Linked DNA regions of Homo sapiens: region 1 is linked to region 2. The links come from fine-mapping of genetic effects on gene expression. Tissue or cell type: spinal cord. Region 2 holds a variant in brackets; the other region holds the start of a gene. All regions are shown on one strand. Distances are from middle to middle.

Region 1 (8,180 bases), 24 kb after region 2:
TAACACCATGACTCACTAGTATGAAGAGTTCACAGAAACAATGGTGTGAAGCCAAGGAGGGAAGGAAGCCTTGTCAGGACACATAAGCCACCTTGACGAGGAAGCACCAGCCTGCACTCAGAATTTCTGGGTCAGTCTGGCCCCAGTGTGCACGAGCTGATGTCCCACCTCTCCAGCTGCCCAACACCTCTGTTCCTCAGTGTTCTCAGCTTCAATGCCTACCTCTGCCTCAGTGTATTCGGCTTCAATGCCTACCTCTGCCTCAGTGTACTCGGCTTTAATGCCTACCTCTCCTGCCTCTCCTGCTCCATGGCAGGGTGGTACAGACAGGGATGAGGGAGGGTCTGGTGCAGGCAGAAACATCGTCAGGGACACACCGACACACACACACACATACACACACGTGTCCACGTCGAGAACATGAGTCCAGGGCAGCTAACTGAAGTGCAACCTATCCTCCCATTGAACAGAGGTCAGATGGCCCCTAAAATCATTTGTGTAAAAAGTTATTTTTCTATATGTTAAAATATTCATTTTTCTATTTCTGTGGTCTGGCAGTTTTCCCCAAGCTCTTTCTGCTTCTTCCCTGGAGCCACTAAGAACATGGCTGGACCACATTTCCAGCCTCTGAAGTCGAGGGCAGCCGTGCACCAATTTCTGGTCTGGAAAGCACACCATGCATGCACAGGCTTGGTCCTGTCACAGCCCGTGCACAGCCCTTCATGCTGGAGGCGGAGGGCTCCAAAGGCTGAGGAGAGGGGCCACGGTGGTGGCACCTGGCAGCCTGTGCTGCTCCCACTAAAGGGTGATCAGGACACCAGGCTGGACTGTTGTGTAAGCAAGAGAGAAACATTTAGTGCATGAAGCTGAGGTCACTTCTGTCAGCCTACCTTGACTGATGTGGGTACCTTGAAGCAGGATGCTTCAGTGACACTGTAGGATGTTGCTGAGTGACTGAGTGATGGGGCACAGAAACAAATTCAGGAGGGGAAAAGCTCAAGACTCACGTTAGGCAGTGACAAACAGGTTCAACTGCAACAACCTGTAATAACGCAGAAAACTTACCACAGGCTTACTCTCCTGCAGCCCTACAGGAAATTATTGCAAAGAATACGCATTAGCAGCCAACACACGGAATTGGACTAGAGAACTGGCTGGTGTGCAAGCGGAATGGACACGAAAAGAAAGTACGAAGAGCAGGGGCTGCAGCACTGGGAAACCTGAGTGCCCTGAGAGGCTGCAGGGAGGGACAAAGGACCATCAGGTCTTGGCCCTTCAGCAAAGATCTGACCTAGGATGGCTACCTTCCCACTCAAGCCTTTGTTCCACATAACCTCAGGGTATCAGCTGCCCAGGAGACCAAAAGAAAATAAAGTCAGGCTTGAACAGTAGACACAGGAAGAACGACAATGGCATCACCAGCACACAGAGCTGACGAGATACACACAGACCAGAAGCTGCTGTGCTCGTGAGGACACGATGAAGCCTAAGAAGTATCAAGCAAAGAACAGAGTAAGGGCACACGGTGGGCTCAGGGCTGACTGCCTGGTCCCCACTGCCATGCTCCAGGAGTGAGCTATGGCAGCCTTCCAAGACAGCATCCTCATAGCCACATCAGATGAGACCGTGGAGGAAAAGGACTAAGGGTAGAATCAAGGGCCTCAGCAAACAAGCCAGGCACAGTGGCTCACATCTGCAATCCCAGCACTTTGTGGGGCCGAGGCAGAAGGATCACTTGAGCCCAGGAGTTCAAGACCAGCCTGGGCAACATAGTGAGACCCTGTCTCTACTTTAAAAAAAAAAAGTAGTCAGGTGTGGCAGTGCATGCTTGTAGCCCCAGCTGCTGGGGAGGCTGAGGTGGGAGGATCGTTTGAGCCACGGAGGTTGAAGCTATAGTGAGCTGTGATTGTGCCACTCTACTTCAACCTGGACAACAGTGACATCCTGTCTCAAAGGAAAGAAAAAGAACAATGGACAAGGGAATTCCTCCCAGATAGCAGAATCAGGGTCTAGTTGGGAAATTCCTCCCACCTCCACCCCAGCATCACTTCAAAACTGCTATAGACCAGTGTCTGCCATGTGTCTCCCTTTTCCAAAAGGGAGATGGTTACAAAAACCATGGTCATATTTAACCACTGCATTTTAGTGGGGAGAGCAACTAGTTTGTCTTCTTAGTCCATAGGGCTCTGGACCACGAGGAACCACAGCCAGGCCTGATGGAGAGAACTGTGCAATCCTGAGAAATGTTCTGTGTTGCACTAGGCACCTTGACAAAGTGTCCCCCTTGGGGTGGGGAGAGTGTGTTCTCCATGTGGGATCAAGAGTGGAGCAGAGATCTGGTCACCAGAAGAGAGACTACGGTAAGTGCTGTTCCTTTTCCACTAAGCCACTTCCCTTTCCTTCTAGACACAGAACTAAACTACACTCCCTAGCTTCCCTTGCAATTAAGTGCAGCCATGTAGTCGTTGAGTGCCTGGCCCATAAATTCCTCCTGCACTGCCTCTCTTCTTTCCCCACCCACTGGCTAAATGCGGAGAATTCAGAGGGCCTAAGGAAAAAAACCACAACATGGAAGAATTTTAGGCTGCAGCTTGCAGAGAGCTGCCCAAAGGAATCGTCTGACTAGAAACCGCTACACAGGACTGTGTGAGCAAGAAACATGCAACTGTTCTATTGGGGTGAATTGCTACAGCACTTAACCTACCTCCACTAATATAAATTGTTTAACATTTTTTTGAATTACAAAAGCAATACAATACAAAACATTTAAACAATGCAGAAATAATAAAGTTTTTTATCCCTACCTCCTCTCCCTGCTGTGCCAACCCTAGGGGATAATCAATGTCACAGGATATCCCCAGGAATATCCATGTACATACATGCACAGAACAAGTCAGGGAAAATAAACTAAATTTATTATTTTAGTGAGATTCTAGTGCACCTAACACTAGGTAAGCACTTCAGGAAAAGGCAGTGACAAGTGATTGCTAAAGATACCATAGTCTTAAAGTTAAGTCAGTAAACACAAGATAGTAATCCCAGATAAACTGGAAGCTGTAGAGTTAATACTCCTTTACTGGTACAGAGCAGTGTGTGTAAATTGTAGAAAATTTAGAAATACATAAAAAGATGAAAACTCTACTACTCGAGGAGTACCACTGATAAAATCCTGTGCATTTCCGTTTTTTTAATGTACATACGAATATTTTTAAAAAGAGAAAATTACTCCCTTCTGATTAGAAAAGATCGAAATTTTTCTCTTTTAGTGATAATCAAGTCAGAAACTTGCTGTTTGGCTCGAGTTAGGAAAACCTAGCCTGGTAGTTACCACGCAGGTTGAAAGGCCAGTGGGGCATAATTAACGAGCCCTCAGGGTCCACGCTCCCGCCCTCGGAGCTCAGAACCGACGGGAGGTGCAGGAGGCCGGGCATTTCTACAGCCCTGGTTCGTTCCTAAACTACTGAATCTTTTAAAGAGATCTGAGTGCTCCTTATACACAGCTGCTTTAATTAAAATAACCACCTGAGCCCTTTTCCTCCGAACTCCACATGCGCTCAGTTCTCAAAGCGCCGATCTCAAGCGGCCGCCCGGATGCTCCGGCCCGACTTGTGCCCCGAATTCCCCTGGAGACCCTCGCACTAGCACGGCGTCAGGAGGAGGCTTCGGGTGACGAGACAGCGGGCAACGGCTCTGGTCCAGAGCGCGCGTGTCCGCCGTTGGAAGCGGTCACGGCGGAACCCTCAAATCGCCCCCTTTCCTAGAGACCTCAGCGGAGCCGCGAGCAACCGCGCAGCCCCCGCGCTCCAGCCCTGCGCCCTAGGCACACGCCCCAGAGCAGCAGCTCGGGTTCGGCGCCGACTCCGCGCCGAGACCAGCCCGCTAGGGGAGGACTCACAGCACCCAGCTCCCAGGAGGGCACGCAGAGGACTACCGAGCCACACTCCGCCCCACGCTCGCCGCTATGGTTACTTGCCAGCCGACCCACGCGAGCCGCTATGGTTACTAGCCCGCCGCCCCTCGCGCCCACGCCCCTTTCGCTATCTCGCGACAGCTGGAGAAGCCTCGCTTCCGGCCGGCTCACTTACGGACCTAGCGTCACTTCCGCCTCCGGCGAGGCTCCGGCCTCGGGTCCGGATGTATAAAGCGCGGCCCCCTGCGGGGAGTGGTGGTGAGTCCGAGGGTGCCACAGCGGCCCTGCCCCTGCCCCTGCCCCTGCCCTGAGTGGGCGCCGCGCTACGGGGGAGGGGTTAACCCACCCCTCCTCCCCGGGGCCTCACGCGGGTGGGAAGGGACAGTCCCAGCGACAGACCAGGCGCCTGGACGCGCCGTGGACCCGCGTGCGGACGGCGGGGACAGGCTCCGGTGCTGAGCGCCTCCGGTGTCCCCAGCAGCACTGACCCACTTGCAGGCCCCGGAGCTGAGCCGCCAGCCATGGCCGCTCCCCGCGGGAGGGCCGCGCCCTGGACGACGGCCCTGCTGCTGCTCCTAGCCTCGCAGGTCCTGTCTCCGGGAAGCTGCGCGGACGAGGAGGAGGTCCCCGAGGAGTGGGTGCTCCTGCACGTCGTCCAGGGCCAGATAGGCGCCGGGAACTACAGCTACCTGCGGCTGAACCACGAGGGCAAGATAGTCCTCAGGATGCGCAGCCTCAAGGGAGATGCGGATCTGTACGTCTCCGCCAGCAGCCTGCACCCCAGCTTCGACGACTACGAGCTGCAATCGGCCACCTGCGGCCCGGACGCCGTGTCCATCCCCGCGCACTTCCGGCGCCCAGTGGGCATCGGCGTCTATGGACACCCCTCCCACCTGGAGAGCGAGTTCGAGATGAAGGTGTACTACGACGGCACGGTCGAGCAGCACCCGTTCGGCGAGGCCGCCTACCCCGCCGACGGCGCAGATGCCGGCCAGAAGCACGCTGGTGCCCCGGAAGACGCCTCGCAAGAGGAGGAATCTGTTCTCTGGACGATATTAATTAGCATTTTGAAACTGGTACTTGAAATTCTCTTTTGAGTCGTTGACCACACTCTGGGATATAAAACCCTCCATCTGTGAAGCTGATTGCAGTTTGCTGTGAACCTTGCTACTTGTACTTGGTTGAAGTTCTAGGTACCTTTAGTCAAGGGATGGAAAAATAAAGCCATACGCAGTTTTGTTACCTCAGTTACCCCAAAAATAGGAAAAGCAGCAAGCACAGTATTTTAAAGATCATAATTCCTATAAAAGGACTGTGCACAAAGTGTTTAGACTCCATTTTCATTAGGCAGGTTGACTAAAAATGATTGCAGTAACAGGTTTATATAAAATAGAGCAACCTTTCATGCTGTGACACAAATCAAAAGGTTGATAACTTTGTAATTTTACTCTGGAGATTCTAACCGAAGTTGGTGTAAGTTTTCAAGAGTTACTAAAATCAAGTTGGAAATGATTTACGTACACTTCCCTGAGCCTGGACTAAAGCCTCATGCCTGTACCCCAAGTAGGTGATGGTACTTTTCTATACAAAAAGGATTTCCTGGCAGGCAGGTATTTACAAAGTTTGTTCCTGTACCAGTCCAATAATGACAACTCTAAATCCAGCTGCACCAAATCTTAGTGGGCCATTTGTCATACCTATGAAAATTCTTCAGTTATTAAATAACTTTGTCAGTGCTACCTATGGTAGGCCGGAAACAATGTAGATTAGGAAGTTTCATGAAAATTAACTTTTGGGGCTATGGAGAAACAGTTAAGTATCTTAAGTTACTAAACATTTCCACTGAATTTTTGGAGTGAGCCAAGGTTACTATAAAATACTTTGGAAGATGAATTCTCTACCTGGAGTTAGTTTCGAGAGTAAGCGTAGCTTTTAACAGAAATAACTGCAGATTTTAAGCTCATAATTTGCAAAAAAAATCTTTTATTGGCATGAAAATAATGTTGTAAATGGCACCAAATATTCCACTTAAATGCATATACAGTATTAGAGTCAAAAACTATTTTATCCCTCTTTGCTGTTTTTCCCCCTTCTGCCCACTTTCCTGGGTGTTGGGGGGGCCCGCTGACAACAGTCACAAATCCAGCGACCTAGGAAAAAAATTGTTAATATAGAATGAAAAATTATCTTTACAGGACTGAATTTTAAGCCCATCTAAACTCTTCTGCCTTAGCTATCACTAATGATATTCCTCTCTGGATTTTGTGGTGAGAAGGGCACTATGAGTTCCTTAATTTAAGGAAAAAATGTAAACTTAATCAATGTAATCAATGCCATGCAAAATTCATTGCAAGTCAAGGGGGATGGGAGAGATGCAATGCCATACGGTGATACGGACCTTTAAGAAAGTACAATCTTTCCTGAAATTCAAACACTATCATACTTCAAAAGGTCAAAACCCATTCCGGAATTTGGCTTTTTTAAGACTTTTTCTCTCCTGCTCACTGGCAGCTGTGTGTCTTAACAGCATTCTTTCAAGTCCTGGTGTACTCTGCTGACAGCACTTTAAAACTTTAACAGCACAATGATAACTTGTACTACATACTTGATCTGAATTACTACAGAAAAATAATTATGTTGCTTGCTTAATGATTCCCAGGAAACTTCGTTGTAGGCATATATTTTATAAGAGTATTATACAGTGTTAACTATGCAAGTAAGTTCTAAAATTACACAATTATCTGTGTAATGTTTTAGTCCAATTACTGTGATTTATTCAACTCTGTTCTAAAGTTATCTGGAATTGTCATGCTGCCTCAATTTACAGAAATCTATAATAGATTTCTATAGAAATGTATAAAGACGTAGCAGTCATTTTGTTGTTTCTAAATAGATAACATATAAAAATAAAGGCTTTGTTACTTTAGTATTTCAGTAGAAAAACACCAGCTCATTCTATAGAACTATACTTCCAAAACTTAGCAGGGGCATTCTGGCCTTTCACTTATCCTTTAGTTGGAATTGTCTAGGGATGAAAAGCTGGTGGACATGACCTGTATAATCACAGCTTTGGTCATATTTGCACATAAGAGTCCACAAGCTCTTCATGTCATGATAGCGTTTATGCAGCCTTTTGGAGTGCTGGGAGAGTCTCATCACCCAAAGATAATGTTTGCTCTTTTTTTAATCTTTACCTGATGGAATAGCACCAAGGCCCACACAAAAAGTATGATAACCTCTGTCACACATATCACAGAACATCATTTCTTCTTCATGGTGGGGTTGTCCACATATAATGCATGTTTTACATTCCATACACTGCCATGGGTAGGTCTTAATCATAGAAACAAGCTCCATTGTCATATCCAGGCAAGAAGGATGGCCTAAATCAAAACCAGTATTAGTGGTATCTCACATAAGAAATTTTAACTTAATATGGCACATAAAATACTAGTTTGCTTTAGGACTTCCAGAGAATGGCTATAATGTCAAATCGCCAAAGAGAAATGAATATACAATGTAGAGGAAAACACATGGGCTGTGTCTATGCCTCACAAGCTACCCTGTGTATTTAATTTGGTGACTCTTTGGTTGAAATCTGCCTGAAACTATAAATTCTAGTTTTTGAACCAATAAATACGGTGGTTAAAATTTTAAAAAGACATTTCAATACTTACCACTATTCTCACATTGGGAGCAGTGTATAAGTGATTCAGCCTTTCCTTTCTTGTTGGACTCCTTACCCTTCAGACAAATTCCACATATAGCATTTGGAATGACCTTTGGCTGGAAGGGTAGAAGAGGGCTATAAATTCATGCCAGAAGAGCTTACTATGGGTTTAAAAGGAATTCTGTTACTTTATTGCCCTATTTTTACTTTTGGTAACTTGCTAATGAGGACCATTTTGAAAGACAAAACTTGACAGGAGTCTGCCTACAATGTAAGACTGCCTACTGAAGAAAGCATTAATTTCATCATAAAATTTGGTAAACAGCATGATCTCGTAAGATTAAATGTAGCATTCTATACTCCCTACATGCACAGTAAGATTTGTTTAATGAATGGAAGGAAAGACTAAATACAATGTCAAATGTCACTATTAATTGGACAAGAAAATCCAAGTAGCAAATGACCATTATGTGTAAGACTTACTCTAAAAAGACCATTTTAAATAGCTCATATATTAATTTTGTTTAAAACCTGCTATTTTCCAAAACTGCAAAACTAGAGCTATAAAATCTAAGTTAAAAAATCAGCTTATCCTCATTG
Region 2 (8,180 bases):
ATACAATCTACTAAGGTGAGAGGGATGAGCATGCTGCTAAACCCCCTAGGCTTAGAATGGGAACCCCAAAAAAGACAAAACCCAAGGAGTAAAGATGAACTGGAAATAAAACAACCCTCATAAGAACTGACACCCAGTTATGAATTGACTTAACACCTGACTGGCTTAGGGTAATCTAGGACTGCCAGTGCCCTGAGCATGACTGGCTACCAGAAGCTAACATAAATCTGATTTGGAAGAATGTAAGAATCCAGAGTATCAAATCAGCTATACTTTTTTTTCATATACAAAATCCAGCAATCTAAAAAACAACCAGGTATTCAAGGAGACAAGACCATTTAGTCAAAAACAAAGAAAAATAAAGAATAGAGAAATGCGATGCCTACAAGTCATCCAGATAAGACTTGAAACCAAACTAAAACTGATCCAAATGTTAGAATTACTAGACAAGAACATTCAAACCATTATTAAAACATTTTCCATATGTTCAAAAGTTAAGTAGAGGCATAGAAGATATTTAAAAGTCCCAAACCTAACTTCTGGAGATGAAAACTAGAATAAGATAAAATTTTAAAAAACACTTAGTGGGATTAACTGCATATTAGATGTTGCTGAGGAAAAGATTGGTAAATTTAAAGACAAAGCAATAGAAGCTATATAAAAATGAAAGAGAGAAAAAATACATTCATAACCATGAAAGAGTATCAGTGAGCTGTGGGAAACTTCACGTGACCTGACATACATGTAAGCAGGGTCCACAACGTTTGGGAGGAGGGGAATATTTGAAGAAATAATGGCTGAAAATTTTCCAAATTTTGATGAAAACCATAAACCCGTAGAACCCCAATGATAAAGTTTGGATGTCCCCTCTTTCATGCGCGTCCATGTGAAGAGACCACCAAACAGGCTTTGTGTGAGCAATAAAGCTTTTAATCACCTGGGTGCAGGCGGGCTGAGTCCGAAAAGAGAGTTAGCAAAGGGCAATGGGGTGGGGTTTTATAGGATTTGGGTAGGTAAAGGAAAAAGGGGAGTTGTTCTCTGGCGGGCAGGAGTAGGGGTCACAAAGTACTCAGTGGGGGAGCTTTTGAGCCAGGATGAGCCAGGAGAAGGAATTTCACAAGACAATGTCATCAGTTAAGGCGGGAACAGGCCATTTTCACTTCTTTTGTGGTGGAATGTCATCAGTTAAGGCAGGAACCAGCCATCTGGATGTGTACATGCAGGTCACAGGGGATATGATGGCCGAGCTTGGGCTCAGAGGCCTGACACCCTCCAAATCCCACGTTGAGATGTAATCCCCAGTGTTGGCGGTAGGGCCTGCTGGGAGGTGTATGGGTCATGGGGGCAGATCCCTCATGGCATGGTGCCATCCTCACCATGGTGAGTTCTCATGAGATCTGATCATTTAAAAGTGTGTGGTACCTCCCCCCATGCCTTGCTCCTGTTTTTGCCATATGACATGCCTGTTTTCCCTTTGCCTTCCACCATGATTGTAAGGTTCCTGAGGCCCTCACCAGAAGCCAAGCATTTGTTGGTGCCATGCTTGTGTCGACAAAAGAGTCGAACTTTGTAAAATATTTTAAGAGATTTATTCTGAACCAAATATGAGTGACCATGGTCCATGACACAGCCCTCAGGAGGTCCTGAGAACATGTACCCAAGGTGGTTGGGGTACAGCTTGGTTTTATGTACTTTAGGGAGGCATGAGACATCAATCAAATACACTTAAGAAATACATTGGTTTCGTTCAGAAAGGCGGGACAACTCAAAGCGGGGGCTTCCAGGCTATAGGTAAATTTAAACATTTTCTGGTTGACAATTGGTTGTTTATCTAAAGATCTGAGATCGATAGGAATATTCAGGTTAAGATAAAGGATTGTGGATACCATGTTTTATTGTGCAGAGGAAGCTCTCAGATAGACTTCAGAGACTGCAGGCTGTAAAATTTTTCTTATCGGACTTAAAAGGGTACTTGGCTCTTACTCAATTATCTCCTGGATCTGGGAAGGAATGAAGGAAAACAAAGGGAAAAGGGGATTCTCTATAGAATATGGATTTTTCCACAAGAGACTTTGCAAGGCAATTTCAAGGTATGGCAAGGAAATATATTTTGGGGTTGAATATTTTTTCCTTATCTCATAATGTTATGCCAGAGTCAGACTGAAAAGTAAGTCATGATATACGGGGTCAAATAAAACCCATCTAATCAGAATTTATGGTTTGTAGGGCATGACTCCCTAGGCCCCTTAGGTAGGAATTTGGGCAAGATAAAAAATCAGAGTTTAGTCCTCACTTGTGCAGCCTGCAGAACCATGAGCCAATTAAATCTCTTTTCTTTATAAATTACCCAGTCTCAGGTATTTTGTTATACTCAGGACTAAACTCTGACCTTTTTCTTCTCCTGTCCAAATTCCTATCTAAGGGGCTTAAGGATTCACACACTAAAAACCATAAAGTCTCATCAGAGGATTTTATTTAACCCTATATAACGTGGCTTACTTTCCAACCTAACTCTGGCATAACATCACATGACAGATAAAGAAGGGAATTAAAATATGTTAACTCCAATTATGTTTCTTTACCATATCTTGACATAGGCCTGCGAAGCTGTCTCTTGTGGGGAAAATCTACATTCTGCAGAAGATCCCCTTTCCTTTGTAGGCCTTTTTCCTGATCCAGAAGAGTAACCACTAAGACTCTGGCACTTTTTAAGTCTAATAAATATTTACAATCTATTCTCTCTGAAGCCTGCCACCTGGAGGCTTCTTATGTATATTGGGGACCTTGGTCTCCACGATCCGTTATCTTAACCCAGACATTCCTTCTATTGAGTCTAGGTCTTTAGACAATAACTTAACACTTTCAACCAATTGCAATTTAGAAAATTATCGAATCCACCTATGACCTGGAAGCCCCCACTTTGAACTGTCCCACCTTTCTGGACCTAAGCAATGTACATATTACATGTATTGATTGATGTCTTATGTCTCCCTAAATTGTATAAATCCAAGCTGTAGCCTGACCATCACGCACATGTTCTCAGGACCTCAAGACTGTGCCTTGGGCCTCTGGTCGCTCGTAGTTGACTCAGAATAAATCTCTTCAAATATTTTACAGACTTTGATGCTTTCATTGACATAGCAATTCATGAAAGGCCTAATACAGAAAATTGGTACCAAGAAGTGGGGCACTGCTATAAAGATACCTAAAAACGTGGAAGTGGCTTTGGACCTGAGTAACCAGCAGAAGTTGGAAGAGTTTGGAGGGCTCAGAGGAAGACGAGATGCTGAGGGAAACTTTGGAACTTCTTAGATACCAGTTAAATGACTGTGACCAAAACACTGATAGTGGTAAAGACA[G/A]TGAAGTCTAGGCTGAGGAAGTCTCAGATGGAAATGAACTTGCTGGGAACTGGAGCAAAGGTCACTCTTGTTATGCCACAGCAAAGAGCTTGGCTACATTCTGTTCATGCCCTAGGGCTCTGTGGAAGCTTAAACTTGAGTGATGGCCTAGTGTACCTGAAGGAAGAAATTTCTAATCAGCAAAGCATGTAAGATGTCTCCTGGATGCTTCTAACAACATACAATCATAAATGGGAGCAAAGAAATGCCATACAGTTGGAATTTATATTTAAAAGGAAAGCAGAGCATAAAAGTTCAGAAAATTTGCAGCCCAGCCATGTGGCAAAAAGTAACTGTTTTTGGTGAGAGGAATTCAAGCAGGCTGTGGAGCAACCATTTACTTAAGATATTTGTGTAACTAAAAAAAGAACCAAAGGCTGATAACCAAGGCAATGGGAAAGGCCTCCAAGACATTCCAGATATCTCCAAGGCAGTCCCTCCCATTACAGGCCCTGAAGTCTAGGAGGAAAGAATGGTTTTGACGGCCAGGGCCTGCTGCCCCACACAGCCTCAGGACACTGCTCCCGTCTCCAGCTCTGGCCTCAGCTCAGAGGACCCCAGATACAGCTTGGGCTGCTGTTTCAGAGGGTGCAAGCCACAGGCCTTGGTGGTTTCCATGTGGTATTAAGCCTGCGGGTGCACAGAGTACAAGAGTAAAGGAGGCTTAGCAGCCTCCAGCTAGGTTTCAGAGGATTTGTGAGAATGCCTGGGTGCCAAGGCAGAAGCCTGCTGCAGGAGTGGAGCCTTCACAGAGAGCTTCTACTAGGGCAGTGCCAATGCCAAGGGGAAATGTGGAGTTGGAGCCCCCACACAGAGTCCCCACTGAGGCACTGCCTACTAGAGCTGTGAGAAGAGGGGCACCATCATCCAGACCCCAGGATGGCAGATATTCCAGCAGCTTACACCCTGCTCCTAGAAAAGCCGTAGGCACTCAGCAACCAGTGAAAGCAGCCACAAGGGCTGAACCTTGCAAAGCCACAGGGACAGAGCTGCCCCAGGCCTTGGGAGTCCACCCCTTGTACCAGTGTGCTCTGGATGTGGGACACAGAGTCAATAGAGATAATTTTGGAGCTTTATGATTTAATGACTGTCCTGCTGGGTTTCAGACTTGCATGGGGCCTATAGCTCCTCTCTTTTGGCCAATTTCTCCCTTTGGAAATGGGAATGTTTATCCAATGCCTATAATCCCTTTGTATATTGGGAGTAAATAACTTGTTTTTTATTTTACAGGCTCATAGGTGGAAGGAACTTGCCTTGTCTCAGATGAAACTTTGGACTTAGGACTTGGGACTTTTGATTGAGTTGATGCTGGAACAAGTTAAGGCTGAGGATTAAGCTCTGATTTTTTTTTATCTTGCCCAAATTCCTTTCTAAGGGGTCTGGGGAGTCATGCCCTACCAACCATAAATTCTCAGCAGATGAGTTTTATTTGACCCTTTCTATCGTGGCTGACTTTCCAATCTGACTCTGGCATAACAAGGAAGAAAATCAAAATGTTTTACCTCAAAATATATTTCCTTGCCATACCTTGAAATTGTCCTGCAAAGTCTCTTGTGGTAAAAATCCACATTCTATAGAGAAACCCCTTTTCCCTTTGTTTTCCTTCCTTCCTTTCCAGATCCAGGAGATAATCAACTAAGAGCCAGGCACCCTTTTTAAGTCCAAAAAGAAACAATTTACAACCTGCTCTCTCTGAAGTCTGCTATCTGAGAGCTTACTCTGCAGAGTAAAACATGGTCTCCACAATCCTTTAGCTTAACCTGAACATTCCTTTCTATCGATCTCAGATCTTTAGATAAACTCAACCAACTGTCAACCAGAAAATGTTTAAATTTACCTATAGCCTGGAAGCCCCCGCTTTGAGTGGTCTCGCCTTTCTGAATGAAATCAATGTATTTCTTAAGTGTATTTGATTGATGTCTCATGCCTCCCTGAAATATATAAAATGAAGCTGTGCCCTGACCACCTTGGGCACACGTTCTCAGGACCTCCTGAGGGCTATGTCACAGGCCATGGTCACTCATACTTGGCTCAAAATAAATCTCTTAAAATATTTTACAAAGTTTGACTCTTTTCGTCGACAAGACTTTGGGGGACTGTTGGAAAGACATGATTATATTTTGCAATGTGAGAAGGACATAAAATGTAGGGGACCAGGAGTAGAATGATATAGTCTGCATGTCCCCTGCAAATCTCATGTGGAGATGTAATCCCCAGTGTTGGAGGTGGGGTCTGGTGGGAGGTGTTTGGGTCATGCCGGCTGATCCCTCATGGCTTAATGCTGTCCTCACCACAGTGAGTGAGTTCTCATGAAATCTGGTCATTTAAAAGTGTATGGCACCTCCTCCTGACCACTTGTTCCTGTTTTCACCCTGTGAAGTACCTGCTCCCTCTTCACCTTCTGCCATGACTGTAAGGTTCCTGCAGTCCTAATTAAAAGCAAAGCAGACGTTGGTGTCATGCTTGTACAGTCTGCAGAACCATGAGCCAATTAAATCTCTTTTCTTTATAAATTATCCAGTCTCAGGTATTTCTTTATAGCAATACAGAAATGGCCTAATACATGCAAGAATGAGAAATATGAAGAAAAATACACCAAAACATAGCATGATCAAATTGTTCAAAATTGGTAACATAGGAAGTTTTAAAGGCAGCCAGACAAATATAACCCATTGTATACATGAGAACAAAGATAAAGATAATAACAGAATTCTCATTGAAATGATAGAAGAGCAACATATTAAAAACCTGAAGAAAAATCTGTCAAACTAGAATTCTCTACTCAATATAAATGCCTTTCAAAAACAAGGCAAAATAAAAACTTTTTTAAACACACAAAGGCTGAAATAATTTATCACCATATTTGCACTGAAACATATGTTAAATAAAATACTTCAGGCAGAAGGAAAATGCTACCAGACGGAAACATGCATGTACACAAAGGAATGAAGAGCACCAAAAATATAATTACGTGGGTAGATGTGTAAGATATTTTTCCTTCTTAAATTTAAGAGCCTTAAAATTAAAAAAGAAAAGGCCAGGCGCAGTGGCTCACGCCTGTAATCCAAGTACTTTGGGAGGCCGAGGCAGGTGTATCACGAGGTCAGGAGATCGAGACCATCCTGGCTAACACGGTGAAACCCTGTCTCTACTAAAAATACAAAAAATTAGCGGGGCTTGGTGATGGCCGCCTGTAGTCCCAGCTACTCGGGAGGCTGAGGCAGGAGAATGACGTGAACCCGGGAGGCGGAGCTTGCAGTGAGCCAAGATTGCGCCACTGCACTCCAGCCTGGGTGACAGAGCAAGACTCCATCTCAAAAGAAAAAAGAAGATATTTTTCTTATTGTTTAAATATCTTTAAAAGATCCCTGAATGTTTAACAAAAGTAATAATGGATTGTCAGGTTTGTAGCATATGCAAAAGTAAAATGCATGACAACAAAAACATAAAAGTTGTGAGAGAGGAAATGAAAGAGATACAATGCTAACATTAACGAAAATAGAAAGTAGCCAAAGAAGATTTCAGAGCAAGAATATTACCAGGGATCAAAAAACAGTATCACTTTATAATAAATGAAGTCAGTTCAACAGGACATAAAATATACTAAACACATATGTGCTTAATAACAGAGTTTCAAAATACATAAAGTAAAAACTAATGGAAGACAGATAAGTTCACAGAGTCACAGATTTCAATATGCCTCTTTCAATAACTGACTGAACAACTGGACATGAAATCCTCAAGAATATAGAAGACTTGAAGAACACTATTAGCCACCTCAACCTAACTGACATTTATAAAACAAAAGACACAAACACAATTATTCCTAATAGTGTTACTTGCAATAGTCAAAAACTAAAAATAACCTAAATTCCCACCAATAGGAGAATGCATAAAGTATAGTATATCCATACAATGAATATTACTCAATAATAAAGAAGAATGAACTACTGAATGCAGGAACATGGATCTCAATTATCCTGAGTGAAGAAAGCCAGACAAAATGAGTAAGTATCGGACATCACCAAGCTGGTGAAATAGAAGCTAACCCACTCATATCTCCCGACAATAACAAAAATTCTGCACCCATCCATGGTCCAAAGTCTCTCTACAAGAGCCTCAGAATTCAGGTGGAAGTTGTGAAACCCCAGCAGAGCCAAGATCTTAGAAGGTCATTTTGAGAGTTGAGACCCACACCTAGGTGGCTGATTCACTAAGCGTGCTCGTAGCTTCAAGCCCAGAAATGGCCCAGTCCTCCAAGGGGCTTGGTTACCACCTCATTTGGCCTTGAGCCTGAAAACAAAACCAACAGCCAAAGGGTCTGGCAGGAATCACACACTCTACTAACTGATGGAAGGGCTCATCTGCCTGTTGACAATGGTCTAGGCAATGAACCTGAAAGCTGCCCTGTGGCTTCGCTCCAATTCCCTCATCTGAGGTCCCAGGTAAGAGCTGCTTACACAAAGACCCACAGGGAGACTTGCCCGTATCTTGCAACCTGGGAGTCTCAGCCCTCCCTGGCAGGCTCGCCACACTTCCTCCCATGACAGATCCTGAGGGTACCCAATCTCAGCTCTGGGCTCTTCTGCTGCACTCAGGGAACTATCCCATCTGTGCTGAGACCTGCTAGGAGATGCATGCTCCTCTGTGCCAACTAGACCTCTCTAGTCTCCCACCCACAGCAGATCATAAGGGGGCCCAGTCCCAGCTCCAACTCCTCCTGTTGAAATCGGGGAACTATCTCATCTCTGCAGGGACTTCCTCAGAGACATGCAACCCTCT

What was found. PIP is the estimated chance that this variant, and not a neighbour inherited with it, causes the effect.
Region 1: WDR27 starts here. The variant in region 2 is fine-mapped to the expression of WDR27 in spinal cord (GTEx, PIP 0.95).

What each region holds. Positions count from the first base shown.
Region 1 is chr6:169,698,029-169,706,208 of GRCh38, forward strand. It overlaps WDR27 (WD repeat domain 27), which reads right to left and starts at 4,001. Exons shown (of 26, transcript NM_182552.5): 1 at 3,523-4,001. It overlaps C6orf120 (chromosome 6 open reading frame 120), which reads left to right and starts at 4,098. Exons shown (of 1, transcript NM_001029863.3): 1 at 4,098-8,180. The coding sequence starts at 4,432. The coding sequence ends at 5,007. It overlaps PHF10 (PHD finger protein 10), which reads right to left. Exons shown (of 12, transcript NM_018288.4): 10 at 7,588-7,696; 11 at 7,105-7,293; 12 at 5,874-6,060. The coding sequence ends at 5,975. RefSeq lists enhancers at 3,555-3,634, 3,955-4,044 and a silencer at 4,095-4,464.
Region 2 is chr6:169,673,868-169,682,047 of GRCh38, forward strand. The region is part of intron 2 of WDR27 (WD repeat domain 27); the gene reads right to left. Among named protein-coding and RNA genes, the nearest start is that of WDR27, 24 kb to the right of the region's middle. The variant G/A (reference allele first, on the strand shown) is at 3,360.